Regions from separate parts of the Homo sapiens genome. Here regions 2 and 3 are each reported to be linked to region 1. The links are microRNA targets in miRTarBase. Many come from high-throughput screens and were not tested one by one. Region 1 holds a microRNA gene; each other region holds the end of a gene's coding sequence.
What was found. Region 1 holds the annotated microRNA hsa-miR-4432 (AAAGACUCUGCAAGAUGCCU, at 4,600-4,619, opposite strand). A microRNA usually pairs through its seed, bases 2 to 8, with sites in the 3' UTR of a target mRNA and lowers its output. Matches are read on the target gene's strand: a 7mer-m8 pairs with bases 2 to 8, a 7mer-A1 pairs with bases 2 to 7 and ends in A, and an 8mer does both.

Region 1 (7,200 bases):
TTAGCTTAGAATCTTGATGCTCCAAGTGGGGTCCAATGACCAGCACAGGGCATTACCAGGGTGCTTTCTGGAAATGCAGACTTTCCAGCCCCACCTCAAGACTACCACATTTAGATCTGCATTTTGACAAGAACTCCAAGTGATTCCTGTGAGCATGAAAGTTTAAGAGACACCAACTTACAGCATCATCTCTAGGTCCTTCCCAAGACCTACACGCTGTGATTCTTGAAAGGCTCAATTTCCAAACCTCTGGATTGAGACATCTCTTAGAACTGGGGGAAGCCAAGCTTCTAATCAGGAGTGGTCAGAACGTGGAGTCACAGAAGGCGTCTGTGAAACCCAAAGCCCTTGGACAGGCAACGCTGGGACCGGGAAGCGGGCGGAGGAGAGCGGTTCATTTTTTCCATAGGCATGCTGTGTGTGCCAGCTGAGGTCTTTAATGTAAACCCTCCTGTGCTCCGACCTAAACAATGAGCGTAATTATGGGCTGTCTTACCCCCTTCAGACACAGGGATTGGGGTCGGCCCTCCACAGGGTCCTGCAGGAGGTCTTGTTTCTGAGTCAGGGGGGCCTCTGTTTAACCAGAGCAGACCCAACTCTGCGGGGCAAAGTTGACATACCAGCATAATTACACGTAGGTTGACCATATTTACTGCAACTCTGTTGTTCTAGAATTTCAAACAAAGGCTGAACCCTAGGAAAACACACCACTAAGAAGAAGCAGATTGTCCTGAGTGATTTATTGAAGAACAAAAGTGAGGGAAAGAAAAAGAAGAGAATTATCAGAGACTCACACATACTTCCCTTTCCTCCTGTCTGGCCTAAGGAGAACAACCAGTGACCACCGTGTTCCCTCCCTCCCCAACGGAAAGGCCTCAAAACACTGACATTTTGCTTTTTCAGAGACACGTCTTTATGCAGCCACATCAGATCCCAAAAATCCATCTAGACTCACTGGAAGAAAGCAGGCGGCGGCAGGGTCAGGGGGAGAGAGCTCTCCTCTTCCCTTCTGACTCACTTCACTCACTCCCCACTGCCCCCTCCATGACATGCACCTACATTTCATACAGATATTTTCCAAATGAACAGAAACCTAACCAAGGCTGGAATTTGGCTTTAGAGAAGCCAGAAGAACAGGTCAGGTATGTTACTATTCTTTTACTTTGGGAGGTGACTGGTAGGAAGGCTCTGAGTAAGAGCCAGAACTCTTTGGCCTCAGGTTTTTCCCATGTAAATTCATCACTGTGATGGAAAGCAGTGGCATTTCCAATGCGCAGCTGAGAACTTGCATTGACCCAGCAATTACAGGAAAGGGGCAGTTAGAAATCAGCAGAGTTAGGAAACAGCCCCTCACCCAAGAATTAAAACTTGCATACATATGATTTAGGTATTCCCAATAGATCAGGGCTAGAGGGATCTCAGAGTATTTGCTTGTAGTTGCCAACCCTGTCCCCCCCCCAAAACACACACACACACACACACACACACACACACACACACACTCTTACAATTATAGCTCCCTAGCCAAGGAAGACTTATCAATGCCTACCATATGCCTAACAAAGAGAAATAGGAGATAGGCTTCCCGTCCTTAGAGAGTTTATGACATCTCCGAAGAGACAAGATCAAGTGCGAAAGACAGATTGGAACACTACAAGAAGGAACCTAGCAAAGCTCCGAATTGCTTCTTGGGCAGAACCGAGTACCTGATAGACCATTGGGTACTGGGGTCACCTGGTAGGAAGCAGAGAGAGAATCATTTACCATGGAGTTACATGGTAGTTACCAGAAATTTGTTTTGTTTTCTTTTTTAAGTTGTTGTTAAAAATATTTTTCTCAGATATACTTACTGGCAGGGGAGATACCATGACCGCAAAGGTGGTTTTCCGAGGATGAGGCTTATCCATTTCACACTGGATGTGCTGACCCCCTGCAATTTCCCCAAATGTGGGAAACCTGACTGCATAATTTGTGGTAGTGGGGAACTGCATTCATGCTTTAAAAATAATAATAATAAAAATTTGTTTTAGAAAGTGCCCAAACCTTCATCCTTTCCTATCAAGAAGGAGAGGACTTCCCTGCCAGAGTTCCAAGGCAGGGTCATGAGATTCCTAATTCAAAGTCTCGTCAGGGTGGTCATCTGCTCTGCTCGTTGCCTAGTACTCAGAGAGATACATACTCCAGGGCCAGGTGGTGCCACGCAGATGACAAAATAACAAGTGATTGGGCTAATTAGCCTATTTACAATCATAAAATTGTGAAAGAACCTTTCGCAAAACTACAGATGTTTTTAGTGTTCAGAAAGTCTGAAAAAGAACACAGAATTGGGATAGGATTTGGATCCTACCAGATGTTCACAGAGGGAAAGTCCTGCTAAATGGAAAATTCCAAATGTGGCCAGTTAGAAACTCTGTGGGCTGAAAGCCCCTCTACAATCCTGGATAGTTCCTAGTGACATCACTTGAGGTCTCCAAGCCTGAGCAAAGGACAGGATCTGAGCCTAGATGCCCTAAGATGGGATGGGGCACCCTGGAAAGAACAAGGAGTGGAACTGTTCAGCAGTTCACCAGAGACTTATGTCAGCACCTTGACTCAGGCCAGGTGTATGATATCCCAGACAAAGAAGGGAGGTATAGAAGAAAAGCAATAGAAAATGTCCTAGACATTTACCAAACTGTCTACAAGAAGAGCAGCCTCCTCTTTCGTGGGCATCTTGCCCCCTAACTCTGATTTTGCAGTTCTAGCACAAAAAAAATCATAGTTACCCATCCTTCTGCCAGAGAAAAGGGCTCATGAACTGAACTGGACAGTTTCCCCCTCCCTCTGATTGGCCCAAGGATTGGCATGAGACTGAACAGGGAAACTAGGATTTTCCCCAACAGGAAAAAAAAAAAAAAAAAAAAGCATTTTATGCTCTGATCACATGAACCAATAAACACCCAGCCCTCCTTTCTTCTTAAGCTGGTCCCAGTGATAATTCTACCACGTACAACCAGTGGATTTGTGACTAATAAAGGAAATACGTGGAATTCTCACCAGTTGTCTTCTGGTTTGTATCAGACTCCTACCCTGTGGCTAGGTCCTAGAGGACACCCTCTGGCTCATAGCTAGAGGACACCCTCATAGCTCAAGGGTGATGAAACAGGAAAGTTGCAGAGTGGAGGGGGCAGGTTCCTGCTAGTGGTGACAGTGACATTGTCTAAGGCGTCGTGGCATTAGGCACTGCGCTAATGTGCCACCCAGCAAAGCTGGTGTTCTGCTCAGGGGCACTCTGTGAACAGAGCTGATGAGAACAGACTCTCTCTATGAGCCCCTCCAACTAAAAGCTGCCCCTACCACTCCCAGCCACCTGCTTTCCAGCAGAGCTGGCAGGAGAAGCTACAACCCACCACCCTTACACACCTCCGGCAAGCAATGAAAAGGGAGTCCAAGGTATCTGTCCGTCGAGAACATGAGAAACCTGCATTTTAATCCCACTTTTTACCAAAGATGGGAACTTGGTTAAGTAACAAAATCATTTGGACCTCTCTTTACTCATCTTTACAATGGGGATAGTGAAAGAACCTGGCTCCTCAGACTGTTTTAAGAATTAAGTGTGATAATGTATCAAAAGCATTCAGCACCATACCAGGCACGGTTGGGATTGTCATCATTATTACTGTGGCCAGTAGTATTAGGAAGTGCTCTGAAAATTGTACTCTGTGAAATAAGTCAGGATCTGACATTGTAAAATCAAAAAGGGCATTCTCCCTGGGAAATAGCTAGCAGCTCCTAGTGGCAAATTCCAGACTTGGGTCTATTTTTTGCCTTTATATACTTTCTCATTTATGTTTTGATTTATGAAAACGCATCCATCATTTTCTAAGGAAAGCCTCCAGGCACATGAACAAAAATGATAAAAATGCACAACAGAAACAAATAAAACCATTCGGCATGGCTAACAAGTCAGGCATTTGGCCCCAGAGGGGTAGATAAATCTAGAGCTGGGCTCAGCACTGGGACCCAAAGGTCAACAGGCTGGGACTTTGCTGAAGAAATAAAAGAAAGGGGATTCTGGAGCTTCAGCTAACAGCCTACCTCAGATCTTCTGAGAGCCTAGGAGTGAATCTTCCAGAGGCAGCCCCCGAAAGGGTCTCCAAGAGGCCAGTCCAGAAACCTGTGCAGAGCTGCCCTCTCTGCTCCTTCACTAGTCAGTGGGAGAACCAGCAGACTTCTCCAGCCACGCCAGGCACCCCGTTTACCCCCGTGAGGGAGAGGCCATCTTGGGGAAAGACACTCAGTTAAGAGAACTGGGGCTCCCTAGGAAACCTGTCAGTCATCCTTCTGTCTTTATCCCCTTACTCCAGAGGCATTGCTATGAGGGGACCCCCTACCCAAAGAATTTGCTTCAAAACTCAGCATTTCTAGCTTCCAATACAGATACCTCATTTTTGCTCGAGGCTGGGAACATGTGAGAGGAAAAGTGAGCAGGAATCCCAGCAGAATCAGGGAGGGATCCATAGGGGGTGAGATGGGTTAGGGCCCTCACTAGCAGAGCACAGGTGTCTTTGTAGAACCATGCTAGCCCACAATGGTTAACAGGGTCCATGATGGTTAACAAGGCATCTTGCAGAGTCTTTCCAAGGTGACATTCTAGGGGATGACACTCTAGAGGTGTCGCATTGGAACGGCTCTGCAAGATGCCTTTCTGCCCAGAGTCTGAGGGGATTCTCAGTTATAGACTGTTCTGGCCATAATCCACCAAACAAGGGGGTAATTCATAGGCTGCAAACAGGCCAAAAAGGTGGCCCAGTGTGAACATTAGGGCCCCACATGCCCAGTAGGGCTGCCCAAAACTAGATAACACCTGGCAGAGCCAATCAGATCTTCTATTGGGACATCTGACTGAGACATGGGGAGCTGTCGTCAAAGAGTAATGGTACATGTGACAGAACAGAAAAGAGTAGCCAGCACTCCAACTCCCCAACACGAGAGTGGACAAAAATGGACTTACATTTGTGGGGCAAAGCCCCTGTTAATAACAAGTATTCATAATAACAGTGTCCATGGAGCCACAGTTGACAACAATACTCATTGAGCATAACTTTTTGCCTGGCACTGTTAGGTCCTTGTGCACAGGATCTCACCGAAACTTGACAAGGAACCCCACATGGTCAGTGCTATTATTGTCACCACTGTATAGATGGTAGGAAACTGAGGCTAGAGAGGTGACACAGTGGTAAAGGGCAGAGTTGCAATGTGAACCCAGCAGTTTGATTATGGAACATGGGGTTTTATTTACTAGATTACACAAACTCCTGTCAAATCCTATATGGCCATGGACGATACTCCAGTTCTCGGTGAAGCCCAGCTGTGACTGCTGAGAAGATTTACTGTTCTTCCCCACCTCCCAGGGTGTCCTTCCAATAATCCTCCATCACCTAAAGCAATGGGATTACGCCATAGTCCCCTTAAACTGCAAGCATCTAACTAATACAGGGACACAAGTGTTCCAGAGAAGTGGCTAGTAACAGCAAAGAATGACAGACCCTCCAAATGAGGTTTGGTGGCTCCCTTTTACCCTTCTGAATCTTAAAGGAAGAAACACAAGCTGAGACATTCTGGACAGGTGGCTGGTGCTGGTGAAGTTGACCTCTTCATTTCCATCTTCAGGTCATTACAAGGGCCTTCCCTGAAGCCAACTAAATCCTTGGACAGAGAGGACCTGAGGCTGGTATTGCCCTGTGCTGCACAGTAGACAGCTCTTCTCCTGAGGAAGGGCTGCTGGCAAGGAGGGGCCAGTGACCCAGACCCAGTTAGTCAGACCCTCCCTAGTACAGTCTGCTGATGTCATTGAAGAAGGCCATGTCCTCTCATCTCAGCTGCTGGCCTATGAGCCTGGGGCTGCCTGCCTCATGGAAAGTGATAGGGGAGAGGGAGATAGAACAATCTGGGCCAGGCGCGGTGACTCACGCCTGTAATCCCAGCACTTTGAGAAGCTGAGGCAGATGGATCACTTGAGGTCATGAGTTCGAGACCAGCCTGACCAACATGGTGAAACCCCGTCTCTACTACAAATACCAAAATTTGCCGGGCATGGTGGCGCATGCCTGTAATCCAGCTACTAGGGAGGCTGAGGCAGGAGAATCACTTGAACCTGGGAGTCAGAAGTTGCAATGAGCTGAGATCGTGCCACTACACTCCAGCCTGGGCCACAGAATGAGACTCCATCTCAAAAAGAAAAGAAAAGAAGAGGAAAGGAGAAGAGAGGAGAGGAGAGAAGAGAGAAGAGAGGAAAGGAAAGGAAAGGAAAGGAAAGGAAAGGAAAGGAAAGGAAAGGAAAGGAAAGGAAAGGAAAGGAAAGGAAAGGAAAGGAAAGGAAAGGAAAGGAAAGGAAAGGAAAGGAAAGGAAAGGAAAGGAAAGGAAAGGAAAGGAAAGGAAAGGAAAGGAAACGAAACGAAAGGAAAGGAAAGGGGAGAGCTGTGGTGGCCCTCGTGCAGGACAGGAGATGAGGCAGTTGTGTGGCCAACCTGTAAAAGGAAAACACTTCCCACCTACTGCAAGGTGACTCAAGGTGGAGGTGCCAAAATTAGGGGAAAAGGCTTCCAGCCAAGCACAGAGGAAGGGTATGAAAGAACTTTCTAATAGCCTCAAAGCAAGATCACATGAAGATTCTGCAAGACTGCACGACATTTTTCTTTTTTCTTTTTTCTTTTTTTTTTTTTTTTGGAGACAGGGCCTCACTCTGTCACACAGACTGGAGTACAGTGGCACAATCACAGCTCCCTACAGCCTCAACCTCCCAGCCTCAAGCAATCCTGCCAGCTCAGCCTCCCAAGCAGCTAGGACCACAATGTATGTGCCATTATGCCTAATTTTTCTATTTCTTTTAGAGTCAGAGTGTCCCCACATTGCCCAGGCCAGTCTGGAACTCCTAATCTCAAGTGATCCACCCACCTTGGCCTCCCAAAGTGCTGGGATTACAGGTGTGAGCCACATAGCCCAGCCACAACATTTTTCCAGAAGACAAATGGACTAACCTCATATTGATCCTGGGACTATGAAAATAGGGCAGCCGGCAAGACTTGAGCCAAATATATAGACTCTACTTCATAAATGAAAACCTCCAAAAAGTCCAAATTTAGTATTTTTCATGCTCATGCAAAGGACAAGCTTCCTCCTCCATTGAAAGGAAAGGAAGGGAGAAGATTTACTACAGG
Region 2 (7,200 bases), not on the chromosome of region 1:
CGTGCGCCACCACGCCTGGCTAATTTTTTGTTTGGTAGAGACGGGTTTCACTGTGTTAGCCAGGATGGTCTTGATCTTCTGACCTCGTGATCCGCCGCCTCGGCCTCCCAAAGTGCTGGGATTACAGGTGTGAGCCACTGTGCCTGGCCTGCCAATACAGGAGGTTTTCATGAGAAACTGAGTATATTCATGGATCGAGAGAATAGGGTTTCAATATGTCCATTACAATTACAAAGGTAACCCATAAAATAACTGATGACAACAGTGGATTAGGTTGGGAGGAGAGCGGGCGGGGAAGTGCAATTACTTTGGGTTGGCTGATTCCTTGTGTTTTATGGTAAAGAAACAACACAGTGGGTGGGGCCATTTTGTTTTCTTAATAATTTGTCATTACTTTTAAACATTCTTTTGACACAAAATTAAAAAAATACAAAATGGTATATGCATAGAAAAGATTCTCGCATACCTGCTCGCAGCCTTCCAGAACTCCATTCTGGAGTTGAGCCGTCGTTATTCACACGTACACGGGCCGCACACACAGTGGTGGCAGGACGGCACTGCTCTCTTTTCTTACGTGGTATTTCTTGACACTCACTCCAAATGGACATCTAGATCTTGGTTCAAGCTGCATGGTCAGAATATCACACATGCATGGACTTAGCACATGGTCTGTTTCCTTATTGAAGGACATTTAAGGTATTTTCTGTGTGTGCGAGAACAGTACTAGAAATCATTCTACGTGAGTGAAAGGAACTTACTGGGTCAAAGGTGTGGGCATTTTCGAATTTAATATACCCTCACAAATTTACCTGAGAGACCATCATTTCACAATGTCTCAGATCCCTCGAGCTGACCTCCCTCACCAGAGCCCACCAGCCTGTCCCCCATCACTGCTGGGCCTCTCACTCTCACATGGCCCAACTGTCACCTCTGCCCCCTCCAGCCCTTTCTGAATTCAGTCTGTTGACAAAACCTCCATCTCCTAAACGTTCTTACTAGGCGGTCCTAACACCTGCACTCCTCTTCCCCTGAACTTCCCGGGCTGCTGCACAAGGCCTGGGCCTGGCCACTGCCTGGTTTCTCCTTCCAAACCCACCACAGGGTGCCCATGCCTCCGTGGAGGGGGCAGAGGCCCGCTGCTCACTTCGTGACCCTCCCCCTGGGGCTGCATCTGGGGCGAGGCCCTCCCTTCTGCCCATTGCTGCTTCCAGGCCATGCTCCTTCCATGCTGCTGGACACCCCGGCGGGGGTGCGCCCTTCTCACTGGCTGGCCCACCTCCAGGCCTCAGGGCTGTCCTGCACTCAGGGCCTCCATCACTGGCTCCTGTCACCGTCCCTGACTGCTGGACGACCATCAGGTCTTGTCTCCCATGCTCTGGCCCCAGTTCCCCGTCTGTCCTCACCCAGACCATCATTGCCAACAGCTGCGCCCTCCAAGCTTACCTCCTAAATCTTCATGTTACATGACCCCCCCACCCTCCAGCCTAGGGCCATGGTCACCGTCACAACCAATGTCTCCCCCGGCACCACACCTATGGCCAGCCCTCACCTGCCCCCACTCCCTGTGCCCTCGATCCTGCCCTCTCCTGGGATATTAGGGCCTTGCTGCAGGACAATGCCCAGTCACCTGCCACTGAAATGCAGCTCTGCTCCTGCGACCTCTTGGAGTCATTCTCAGCCGCTGTTCATCTGTTCTTGAAAGCAGGTCTGCCCTCACGGTACCCGTTTCCTCTGCTCCCACTCTCTTAAAGCTAATGAAGAACTCACTTATCCGAAGGCTTGTTGCTGGTCTTCTTGCTGACTTCTAGTTCTGTTAACATTAAACTCATCAGTACTTTGTCGTACATTTTATCCAAGATGGTTCCAGTTTTTTTTTTTTTTTGAGATGGAGTTTTGCTCTGTCATCCAGGCTGGAGAGCAGTGGCGTGATCTCAGCTCACTGTAAGCTCCGCCTCCCGGGTTCACGCCATTCTCCTGCCTCAGCCTCCCCAGCAACTGGGACTACAGACGCCTGCCGCCACGTTGGGCTTTTTTTTTTGTATTTTCAGTACAGACGGGGTTTCACTGTGTTAGCCAGGATGGTCTCGATCTCCTGACCTCGTGATCCGCCCGCCTCAGACTCCCAAAGTGCTGGGATTACAGGGATGAGCCATGGTGCCCGGCAAGGGTTCCAGTTTTTTTAACCTTGTTTTCCCCCATGTTGACTTTAAAAGATGTCATTTAATGTCAATCCTTTTTTAAAAAAATCGATGTGAATTCACTAGATCACTTAGTGGAAAAACACAAATAAAGGGGCAACGGGTCCAAAAATCTTAGAAAGGAGGACTATATTTTTCTTTTTCTGAGTTCTATTGTACAGCATGGTGAATACAGTCAAAAATTGAGTATTGTACATTTCAAAATTGCTAAGAGTAAATTTCAGATGTTCTCACTACAAAAATGTTAAGTATTTGAGGTGATGGATGTAACTAGCTTGACTAGTCCACAATGTATGCATAATTTATAAGATCACTTTATACTCTATAAATTTATACAATAATAGTCAATTTACAAAAAAAGTATCTTATGATTATGGTTTCATATATATGTATTTTTTTACACGTAAATACTTGACCACTTGGAACTTCCCTTAGTATAAAAAGGAGTCTAATCCAACTTTTCTCTTTTCAAGGTGGCCCAAACTTCTGAGCATGGGTAGTTGTTGCAAAGTTCCAGTTCCTGATCACACACGGCCCCTTTGTGCCACGCCGAGTTCCTGTGTATTTGGCTTATTTGTGGACTTTCTTGTTCCAGGAATCTTTTTAAAGGGCCAGCATCATGCTGTTTCAATTACAATGTTCTAAAAACAGCAGAATTTAAAACAATTTGACTAGTCTGGCATATTTGCTTTTCTGTTTTAACTTTAGAATCCGCTTGTGTTTTAAAGGAAGGTTTTACATCTTAAGATACTGTATAGCAAAATGTGAGAATCAACAGAACTTTCACTTATTCAGGGCCTGTGTTCCTTAGTAATGTTATAATACCTTTCACATAGGTGTTTCCCTATTTGTTACTAGGTATTTTATCTTTTTTGGGGGTTGCTATTGAAAAAATGACTTCTGGTCAGGTGCAGTGTCTCATGCCTGTAATCCCAGCATTTGGGGAGGCTGAGGTAGGAGGTTCGCTTGAGGCCAGGAGTACAAGAACAGCCTTGGCAACATAGCAAGACACTGCCTCTATAAAAAATACAATAAAAATTATCTGGGCGTGGTGATGTACACCTGTAGGCCCAGCTACTCAGGTGGCTGAGAAGAGAGGATCGCTTGAGCCCAGAAGGTAGAGGCTGCCGTGAAACATGATCATGCCACTGCACTCCAGTCCAGGTGACAGTTAAGACCCTGTCTCTAAATAAAAATAAAAAATGACCCTCCATTATAGCCTATATTTATAGGAAAGCTACTGATGTTTTTGTTAATTTTGTGTCTGGTTAACTTGGTGAATTCTTTCTTCAGTCACAGATTTTCATTTGCTCCTTAGATGACCTGGGTATGCAACCATCTAACCTGCAAGTAATTTCACCTTCTCCTTTCCACTTTTACAGCATTTCTGTCTAAGTGCTGTTTCTTTTTCAATGATTTCTTCTATACTATTTGTTTTACCACACTGACCTTTAACAATAAAACATTAAATATTGCTAAATAAGAGAATAGATATAAATAGATTTTCCTTTCTTTTATAAAACAGAAACAGGCAGGCCGGGCATGGTGGCTCACGCCTGTAATCCCAGCACTTTGGGAGGCCAAGGCGGGCAGATCACCTGAGGTTAGGAGTTCAAGACCAGTCTGGCCAACATAGTGAAACCCCGTCTCTACAAAAATACAAATATTAGCTGGGCATGATGGCGGGTGCCTGTAATCCCAGCTACTTGGGAGACTGAGGTGGGAGAACTGCTTGAACCCAGGAGGCGGAGGGTGCAGTGAGCTGAGATTGCACCACTGCACTCCAGCTTGGGCAACAGAGCAAGACTCCACCTCAATTAAAAATAAATAAACTAAAATGGAAACAGGATCTCCCTATGGTGCTCAGGATGGTCTGGAACTCAGGCTCAAACGATCCTCCCACCTTGCCCTCCCATAGCTGGGACTACAGGCGTGAGCCACTGTGCTCAAATGAAACAAAGGCACAGCACAACGAATCGTCCAAGTAAAAAAGACCCACTTGTCACTACCTGGCCCCACTGGTATTTTGTGGTAGAGGTGGCCAGGAAAGAATAATCACTTGAGAGGGGACAGGTGCTCCCTGCTCTGACTTCTGTCTAGTGCACTAGTAGTCAAAGCTGCTAAAGAGTTATGAAGAATGTGTCATTTGCATATCACAAAGTTTTATTAATGTAATTTTAAGGCCAATTAAACTAATTTTATTCAAAGTAAGTCTACATTAAATTACAATATTAACAATCTCTAGACACAACGAACTTATAAGAAAAAAAAAATAGAAATCTGTTTGGTCTTTCTTAGACCACATATCATGGAACTCATAAATGAAAATTTTCAAAGATAGAAATGACAATTAAAGAGTGAGGATTTTAATATGGAAACCCACAAGGTGTCATATTTCAAACCCGCATGTTTCAAAAAGAGACTCTTAATAATTTAGCACAAAATCAAATTATATAAACTTGGTATATTCCAGAAAATATTGCTTTAAACACTTATGCCATGATCAAAATTCCTTTGGTAGCTTTTAATCAAAATGAAACATGCTATTATGTAAAATATAAAGTACTTTTAAATGTTATCTCAAAAGTATCTTTGTCATAGTTACCCTTCTAACATCACTACTGAACTTTCCTTTCACTGTTCAACCTCATGTATATATACACAACACAAAACCAGGTACCAACAAAATCCTTTTAATCTTTCCACAAAATAACCTCTGCTTCACAACATCAAGACTTTAAGTCTCCATAAACTTTTTACAGTTTACAGCAGAGAACAAGGATCGTCCCTGCGCATGACTGTAAAAACCAAACCAAACTTTATTATTGCAATCACACAAATACTGCAATTAAAAAAAATCAAAGAGCAGTTACCCCAATGCAAAAAAACAGGGACTGCCAGACTCAATCTTAGAATGGAAACACAAACACACTAGCCCCAAACCCTAAAACAGAGATTCACAAGGAACTCAGCTGACGAACAGACGCAGCAGGGCGGACACCATGGCCTTGGCACCTCAGGGAGCTCACTTAGAAACCTGACTTACGAAAAATCAGCCATCAAAGTTTACAACTTTTGGAAATACATGAAACAGAGAGGGGCCAGTGGCTAGGGTGCGTCATCCATTCGCCAGCTTTGAACCCTGGCTCTTTCTAATGTTCACCCATGAAGGGCCCTTGTTTTCACTCTAAATGCTGATCATCTGAGCGAGCTGTCTTCAGGGATACCTAAGGAATCTTCAGAGCTAAAAAATGCAGCATCTAGGGTCTTCTTCATTGTGCACTCATGATCACACACGAGAACAAACCAAACTTGCAGCTTTTTGACACAAGAACAAGACCTTTTAAAGGAACTTCTCTTTAGTAACATCTTCTTGTCCAATCTCAAAGTTATTTTGCACAGAGTAACAGAAACAATTTAAATGCCTAAAAGAACTAGAGGAAAAACTGGAGGGAAAAAGATACATCTGCAGGTTGAAGTCTTGAGCCTTGTGAAAGATGACCCAGGAGCCACCTCCCTTCCTTCGCCTTCCAATGTCCACAGCTGGATCAATCAGAGTCCCAGAAATGGCACAGGTGTGCTTCCTGCTCTGAGGGTACATTCTAGTGTTTCATGAAGGGGAACCGTCTGCAGATGCGTCAGGCCACGTAGTGGTACTGATTCGGATTGTCTTTGTCTCTCTCCATATAGTCTCTGTCTATCAGAGATTCAATTCTCTTTTTCAAATCTCCAGGCTAAAAAAGAAGAATAAAACCCCCCTAATTACAATGGCATTAAATTTACAAACATTTACATACAAGGGGTATATGCATGAAGTATGTAACTATACTTATAGAAATATATATACAAATAGATATTTATATGAAAATCATTTATAATTATACACATATTTATGAAATGAACAAAACTTTCTATTTTAAAGACAAAGTTAACGTTATCTCTTGATAAAAAAAGCGTCCATGTGAGTTTATGGTCAGAGTGTGGTTTCCTGAGGGAAACGTGAAACTTGTGAAATGTACATACATCATCTGCCATCAGTAAGGGCACGTATAAGCGAGGCAGATCCGACATCTGCCATCAGCAAGGGCACGTATAAGTGAGGCAGACCCGACATCTGCCATCAGCAAGGGCACGTATAAGCGAGGCAGACCCGACATCTGCCATCAGCAAGGGCACGTATAAGCGAGGCAGACCCGACATCTGCCATCAGCAAGGGCACGTATAAGCGAGGCAGACCCGACATCTGCCATCAGCAAGGGCACGTATAAGCGAGGCAGATCCGACATCTGCCATCAGCAAGGGCACGTATAAGCGAGGCAGATCCGACATCTGCCATCAGCAAGGGCACGTATAAGCGAGGCAGATCCGACATCTGCCATCAGCAAGGGCACGTATAAGCGAGGCAGATCCGACATCTGCCATCAGCAAGGGCACGTATAAGTGAGGCAGACCCGATCACGTGACACATTTTTATTTGAAAGGAAAATCTCAACATGTCTTACTGGGGCAACTTTTATCCTTTGAAAGGATGCTTCTGCCTAAGTAGTGTATTTTATTTTGTTTATTTATTTTGAGATGGGGTCTCATTTTGTCGCCCAGGCTGGAGTGCAGTGGTGCGATCTCAGCTCACTGCAGCCTCCACCTCCTGGACTCAAGCAATCTTCGTGCTTCAGCCTCCCCAGTAGCTGGGATCACAGGCTGCACACCACCATGCCTGGCTAATTTTATTTTTTGTAGAGAAGGGGTCTCACTATGTTGCCCAGGCTGGTCTCAAATTCCTGGGCTCAATCAATCCGCCTGCCTCAGCTCCCAAAGTGCTGGGATCGCTGGCGTGAGGCAGTGCGCCTGGCCTGTAGTTTTATTCTCGTGTATTTACATAGTTATTGCATGCCATGTCCACGTAAGTGAAACTACAATCCCCAGTGTTCCTGCACTAAGAGTAGGTGACTGAGGAGACGAATCCACAGCCACAGCCTGTCTCTGCCCAGAGGGAACAGCCACT
Region 3 (7,200 bases), not on the chromosome of region 1:
ACTATGTGTGAGGCTCTGTACTAGGGACCTTTTTCATATGTTATCATTTATTCTTCACAACAGCTCTCTCAGGCACTTTTAATGATCCCTTTATTACAGAAGAGGTAGTGGATGCTCCTAAAAGTTAGTGGCAGGGTTGGGGTTTGAACCCCGGTCTGACTGATGCTAAAACCCTCCTTCTTCCTATGAACAAATAGTTTAATTCCCATCCTAGAAAGGTTAATTTCGAATCTGCAGAGTTTTTCTCCTCAATCCAATAAATGAGCCTAATTTATGCTAAAGAATTTCAAATATTAAGATGCCAACTATCCAAACTTGTCAGCAAACCCATCTGACAATCACAACAAGGATGATAATGACAAATATGGCTTTGTATATGCCAGCCACTGTTCCACTTTATGTGGATGATCTCAGTTGTGTCACACAACCGTTCTATGAAGTAGGTGTTGTGGTACTGATTGGTGGAGGTTCTGCATGGTAGGGATGAGATATAAACTGAGACAGTCAGTCTGACTTATAGGGCCATACCTTTTCACTCTTCTGTACAGCTGTCAGATTAAGTAGAACAAAGCAAGATGCCTCAAAACTAACTACCAGTGGCTGGGCATGGCGGCTCACGCCTGTAATCCCAGCACTTTGGGAGGCCGAGGTGGGTGGATCACCTGAGGTCAGGAGTTCGAGACCAGCCTGGCAAACATGGTGAAACCCCGTCTCTACTAAAAAAATACAAAAATTAGCTGGGCGTGACGGTGGGTGCCTGTAATCCCAGCTACTCAGGAGGCAGAGGCAGGAGAATTGCCTGGACCTGGGAGGTGGAGGCTGCAGTGAGCACAGATCGCACCATTGCACTCCAGCTTGGGCGACAAGAGAAAAACTCTGTCTCAAAACAAACAAACAACGAAAAACTAACTACCAGCATATTTTACTTCACTCATTTGGTGGAAGACAAAATACTTGTTACAAAGCTGTGTTCCCATGTTAACTAGCAAATAAAGGGAGCAACGGTGAGTACAATTGGCAGTGGTGAGGACGGTGATGAACTGATACAAGGTCTAACAGTCACGTAATGTTAATATGTCAAAGAGAAGTGATAAAGATACCAACGGAGTTGGCTCCTCAAATAATGGATTCAGGGCTGTATAACCCACTGTATCGTAATGAAAATAAGAGGAATTTTGTGTTTGTAGCAAGGTTGTGATGGTGAAGTCAAGCAGAAGCTACCACCATGGCCTTTCCTGGTCCTTAGAAGGAATGAAGTGATTCCACCCTCTCCCTAAGACAGACTCCATCACTGTGGATTATCAGCTGGCCTGCTCCACCAAGGGAAACTTGACTCCAAGCCTCTCTGGATTAGCAGCCATTTTCTAGTGCAAGAGTGAATCAAAGTAGAAACGAAAATTCAATCTGATACTAATCTCTCTAGGCAATATCTTTTTTGGGTTTTCTTTTAGGTGGCAGGAATAGTGGCATATTTCTGAATTCTGTGTTAACCTTTCATTGTTCAAACCACTGTTTAGTATCGTATAGTTTCTTCTCGGTTATGTAAGTTTAAAAATGTACGAAATCTCTCTCTTGCCCTACAAAGTGTGGCAGGATAGGGTAGTGGTTATACGGACTCTGGAGCCAGACCACCCAAGTCAGAATTCAGCTCTGACACTTAGCAGCTGTGTGACTTTGGGAAAGTTGCAACCTCTTGATGTACCTCAGTTTCCTCATGTGCAAATGAAAATATTATGGGGTTCTACCTTTGGGGGTTGTTGTAAGTTGGTGCAAATAAAGCACTTAGAACAGAGCATGGCACATGGTAAGCATGCCAATACATGTTATTGGCAACTATTGAGTTTACCTTGTAGTTCACTGTTCATAACTTAGGCAGCAATCCTGAGCTAAACTTAAACAAAATTAGGGCTTAATCCCCATGTTAATTATGGGGCTGGTGTATGTGTGTTATGGGACTGTGGGGCCTGTCAAGATAGTCCTTCTAAGGTAAAGGGTAAGTTGCTGCATTTGGCCCCTCCTACAACCAAGAAAGAGGCACAATGCCTAGTGGGCCTATTTGGCTTTTGGAGGCAACACATTCCTCATTTGGGTATATTAGTCCTGCCCAATTATCAAGTGACCTGAAAGGCTGCCAGTTTTGAGTGGGGTCCAGAACAGAAGGCTCTGCAACAGGTCCAGGCTGCTGTACGAGCTGCTCTGCCACTTGGGCCATATGACCCAGCAGATCCAATCGTGCTTGAGGTGTCAGTGGCAGATAGGGATGCTGTTTGGAGCCTTCGGCAGACCCCCATAGGTGAATCACAGTGGAGGCCTCCAGGATTTTGGAGCAAGACCCTGCCATCTTCTGCAGATAACTACTCTCCTTTTGAGAGACAGCTCTTGGATTGCTACTGGGCTTTGGTGGAAACTGAACATTTGACTATGGGTCATCAAGTCACCATGCCACCTGAATTGCCTATCATGAACTGGGTGCTTTCTGACCCATCTAGCCATAAAGTGGGTCATGCACAGCAGCATTCCATCATCAAATGAAAGTGGTATATACGTGATCGGGCTCGAGCAGGTCTTGAAGGCCAAGTAAGTTACATGAGGAAGTGGCTCAAACGCCCATGGTCTCTACTCCTGCCACCCTGCTTTCTCTTCCCTAGCCTGCACCAATGGCCGCATAAGGAGTTCTCTATGATGAATTGACAGAGGAGAGAAGACTAGGGCCTGGTTCACAGATGGTTCTTCATGATATGCAGGCATCACCCAAAGTGGACAGCTGCAGCACTACAGCCCCTTTCCAAGACATCCCTGAAGGACAGTGCTGAAGGGAAATATTTCCAGTGGGCAGAACTTCAATCAGTGCACCTGGTTGTGTGATTATATACTGATACGTGGGCTGTAGCCAATGGTTTGGCTGGGTGGTCAGGGACCTGGAAGAAGCATGATTGGAAAATTGGTGACAAAGAAATCTGGGGAAGAGGTATGTGGATGGGCCTGAGTGGCCAAAAACTGTGAAGATATTTGTATCCCATGTGAGTGCTCACCAATGGGTGACCTCAGCAGAGGAGGATTTTAATAATCAACTGGCTAGTATGACCCATTCTGTGGACACCACTCAGCCTCCTTCTCCAGTCACTCCTGTCATCGCTCAATGGGCCCATCAACAAAGTGGCCATGGTGGCAGGGTTGGAGGTTACACATGGGCTCAGCAACATGGACTTCCACTCACCAAGGCTGACCTGGCTACAGCCAGTGTTGAGTGCCCAATTTGCCAGCAGCAGAGACCAACACTGAGCCCTCGATATGGCACCATTCCTTGGGGTGATCAGGCAGCTAGCTACCTGGTGGCAGGTTGATTATATTGGACCTCTTCCATCATGGAAAAGGCAGAAGTTTGTCCTCACTGGAATAGACAATTACTCCAGATATGGGTTTGCCTATTTTGTATGCAATGCTTCTGCCAAGACTACCATCCGTGGACTCACAGAATGCCTTATCCACAATCATGCTATTCCACACAGCATTGCCTCTGTCCAAGGCACTCACTTTATGGCTAAAGAAGTGTAGCAGTGGGCTCATGCTCATGGAATTCACCATCATCCTGAAGCAGCTGAATTGATAGAAAGGTGGAATGGCCTTTTGAAGTCACAATTACAATGCCAACTAGGTGACAATACTTTGCAGGGATGGGACAAAATTCTTTAGAAGGCCGTGTATGCTCTGAATCAGTGTCCAATGTATGGTACTGTTTCTCCCATGGCCAGGATTCAAGGGTCCAGGAATCAGGGGGTGGAAGTGGAAGTGGCACCACTCACCATCACCCTAAGTGATCCACTAGCAAAATTTTTGCTTCCTGTTCCCGCGACATTCTGTTGTGCTGGCCTAGAGGTCTTAGTTCCAGAGGGAGGAATGCTGTGGATATGGGTACAGCCGGGCGCGAGATTTACACCCTCTCCCCCGCACTTTCAAGGGCCCTCCAGAGCTCACCAGATGCCGCTGGAAGCGCGACGCTTTCCAAGGCGCGGACCCCTCTCTCCAGGCGAACCCAATTCCAGGGCGCCCTGCCCTTCACAAGGAGAAAAGAACTCTCCCCGGGGCTTCCATTGGCTTCTCTGGGATCCTTCGCATTACTGTGCTGGACGCTTGGCAGTGTCCATCTCCGCCACTCCGGATTCGGGATCTGAACCGGACTCCCTTTCGATTGGCTGAGGGCAACAGAGGCCATCGCCTGTCCATTCAGAATGGCGCTCACCTATTTCTCAGGACCGAATGACCCATGTCCAACTGCTGTTCACATGGAACCCTTCTCCACTTCGGCCTTTGAAGTTCTCTTTAGAATATGTGCTACTACCACCAACATCTGCACCTGCGGCGGCTCTGCCCGGGCCCAGCCCTGGGCTTCAAGACTCACCGCAGCGGCCCTCCTACTAGACGCATAGCGTCCACGGGGCTGGCGGGCGGGGGGGTGGTGACCTCCACACATACACTGCTTCTGTTCACTCTGGACTGCTGGCGATGGCCTGGTACAGGCCCAACAATCCAGTGCCATCCATTTTCAGGGGAACCCTGACTAATACAGGGATCATTCAATAAAAAGACTCCAACTCTTAGAAATCAATTTAGTCACTATTTATTATATTGACATATTTACAAAATAATACAAAGTGAAATACCACTCTAATTCACCGTATTACACGAGGGCTGCATACAGGCAAGACAAAGTATATGGAAAACATTTACTTCTGTCTTTGGTATTAGAACTCTACACAAATCTGCAGCATTTAAATTTTCCAAAACAAAGTATTAAACGTGGACAAAGATGTAATTGGTAATGTCACAAAAAGGGGCTCCAATATCCTCTGCTAGGAAACCCCCAGGCCCATGAAATGCAACAGGAAGACTAAACACCATTTATAAGGAGAGGGTCTATTGACTAAAATAAACAATACATGCTACAATACCATCCACAGGAGTGTTTCTGCTTGTGTGAGGCTGCTCCCTCCATAACAAAGTTCGGCTGACGGCAACAGACAAAACATTCCCGAGACAGAGTCGCAGATAAGACTTTACAGGAAAGAATCCATTCCAAGAGTACACTTTGAGGTGTAACTTTATTGTACAGAACATTTTATAAAATACATTTTTGTGATCATTTACACATATACAAAGACTTAAATGGTTTTAGCAAATAATAATTTTTCTAAAACACAATCACAGTTTACATAATTCTGAGGTAAAGGTCTTGAATCTATCCTAGATGAAAAGTCCTAGCCCATGAGGGTCTCTAACAGGGGGATGTGTCCACTGAACCTTGAGTTCTGGCACCCAGACGGATTGATGAGAGGGCAGGCTACACCTGCTTCATTTCAGAGATGATTCAAAATTTCAGAACTTAATGCTCCTGGTTCAGTTCTACTAAGTTAATGCTTCTTTTTTTTCCCAACATGTAACTCTCTCAGTCTTGTCAGAACACAACTTCTGCTATGGAGGAAATATTTCCATCAGGAAAGGGCCAAGTTAGTGTCTTAACTTGACTGCCTTGAATGGGGACTCTGGACCCCAGGAAGAATGTATTTAGGCTCCTCACAAAAAAGAGTGATGGCTGGGCAAAACAAATGTACTGCAAGACCCATCTTCCCTCCAGTTAATACACTCCCAGGATGGGCTGCAGAGGGGGAGACTCTGAGAGAAGCTGGAGGCCCACAAAAGTCCACTGACCCTCTTTCTGTCCCAGAAATGAATAAAGGACCCAGTTGTGCTTTCCTTCCAAAATCCTCAACAAAGTTGTTTGTGCTCCAAGAAAATGTGGGAATAAAAAAATCATGTCCCAGGTCATCTTTGTGTGTGTGCGGGGGAGGTGGATGGGAGGAAAAGGCATGTATTAATAGATACTGCTGCTATAAAATGACATAAATTATAGCCCTTGATCTGTTTCTGTAAACAATGCCAGCTTCTTCAGGTTATTGGCAACTACCCTTAATATACCTAGCCCAGATCCTTTCATAAAGTCAAGTGCTATATTTCCAAAATAATCCTATGAAATCATGAAGGTTGTGAAGGTTTAATATGAAGACACCCTCTCTTTTGTGTGCTTTTTTCACCTTTTATAAAGAAGTTTGCAAATATAATCAGGACACCAAATAAGTAATTAAAACCCTTCAGGGATAGCTCACTTATGATGCAAACCTGAGCACTGGCCTCATATTTTATAATATCATGAGTAACATCTGAGGGTAAAAGTGTTTGCCGGGCAATGAGTCACCTTGTTGGACAATTTAAGACAAGTAAGGCTGGATCTTTCCAGTAAGCTGCTCAAATGGCAGAACTCCAATTTTTCGTCATGCTGGGAAAAGGAAAATTACACTTCTGCTTCTTTGTACCATCAAATAATCTGGTGAATGGCATGTGAGAATAAAGCAAAAGTGTATTAAGATTTACTGATGACTGGCATTCATGGTATCTGACCAGAAGAAGTAAAGGGAAGCACGAACCAATGTGTTTGCAGGGCTCTTCTGGGAAGAACAGCTCTTGGTTTTGCCCTGGTCCCTGACAATGACAGACTGGCAGGCTGTTTCTTGCACAGCTCTAGGCAAGCCATTAATCTGTCAGTACCAGCATCTTTAGAAATCTCAGCATTAAGACTTAGGAGGGGCTAAGGAGGGAGGATGTTGAACAGCCAGAAATGCAGCTTTTTAAACACTTCAGTTAATTCACGATGCTGTGCAGGCTTCTATTTATCCCTTCTCTGAAATTTTTGGTGCAGGGTGCAACACGGGATTTGAATTTATTCATCCTCTTCCACATATGTGGATGGAAACCAGCCCACCTAAAAAAGAAAAGCAACCAACACAGCAACATGACTTTGTATCTGACACTTCAAAGGATTCTACAAACAGAGTATTTTGTTTTCATAACACCCCAATTAAACTGGGGTTTTATGTCCATTGTAGGTGAGAAGATTGGTTTAACTGCTCTTAGAAGCCTAATAGAGTAAATGATCGAAATGGAGGAATAAAATAAACAGTGTTCTAATCCACTAGCACACAAATAAATATGTAAATTAAGTATAATACAGGGGGGCTCTGCTGCATAATGATTCCTATTTCTGCTGTAGAACAGGATGAAAAGACAGAGGTACTATGTCCCATTCTTTCCAATTTACATCAGCAGTTCTTATAGATATTTTGCAATACACATAAAGTTTAGCTCTAT

Region 2: miRTarBase lists CUL4A as a target of hsa-miR-4432. Seed matches in the 3' UTR shown: 7mer-m8 at 4,001-4,007.
Region 3: miRTarBase lists VAV3 as a target of hsa-miR-4432. Seed matches in the 3' UTR shown: 7mer-A1 at 6,625-6,631 and 7mer-A1 at 5,048-5,054.

The regions. Positions count from the first base shown.
Region 1 is chr2:60,382,763-60,389,962 of GRCh38, forward strand. MIR4432 (microRNA 4432) reads right to left here and starts at 4,683; the gene lies at 4,600-4,683. All of the region lies in intron 1 of MIR4432HG (MIR4432 host gene), which reads right to left. It also overlaps the pseudogene RNU1-32P.
Region 2 is chr13:113,262,219-113,269,418 of GRCh38, reverse strand. It overlaps CUL4A (cullin 4A), which reads right to left. Exons shown (of 20, transcript NM_001008895.4): 20 at 2,311-5,932. The coding sequence ends at 5,837. MIR8075 (microRNA 8075) reads right to left here and starts at 6,499; the gene lies at 6,420-6,499.
Region 3 is chr1:107,566,559-107,573,758 of GRCh38, forward strand. VAV3 (vav guanine nucleotide exchange factor 3) reads right to left here. Exons shown (of 27, transcript NM_006113.5): 27 at 4,603-6,814. The coding sequence ends at 6,773. Among named protein-coding and RNA genes, the nearest start is that of MIR7852, 330 kb to the right of the region's middle.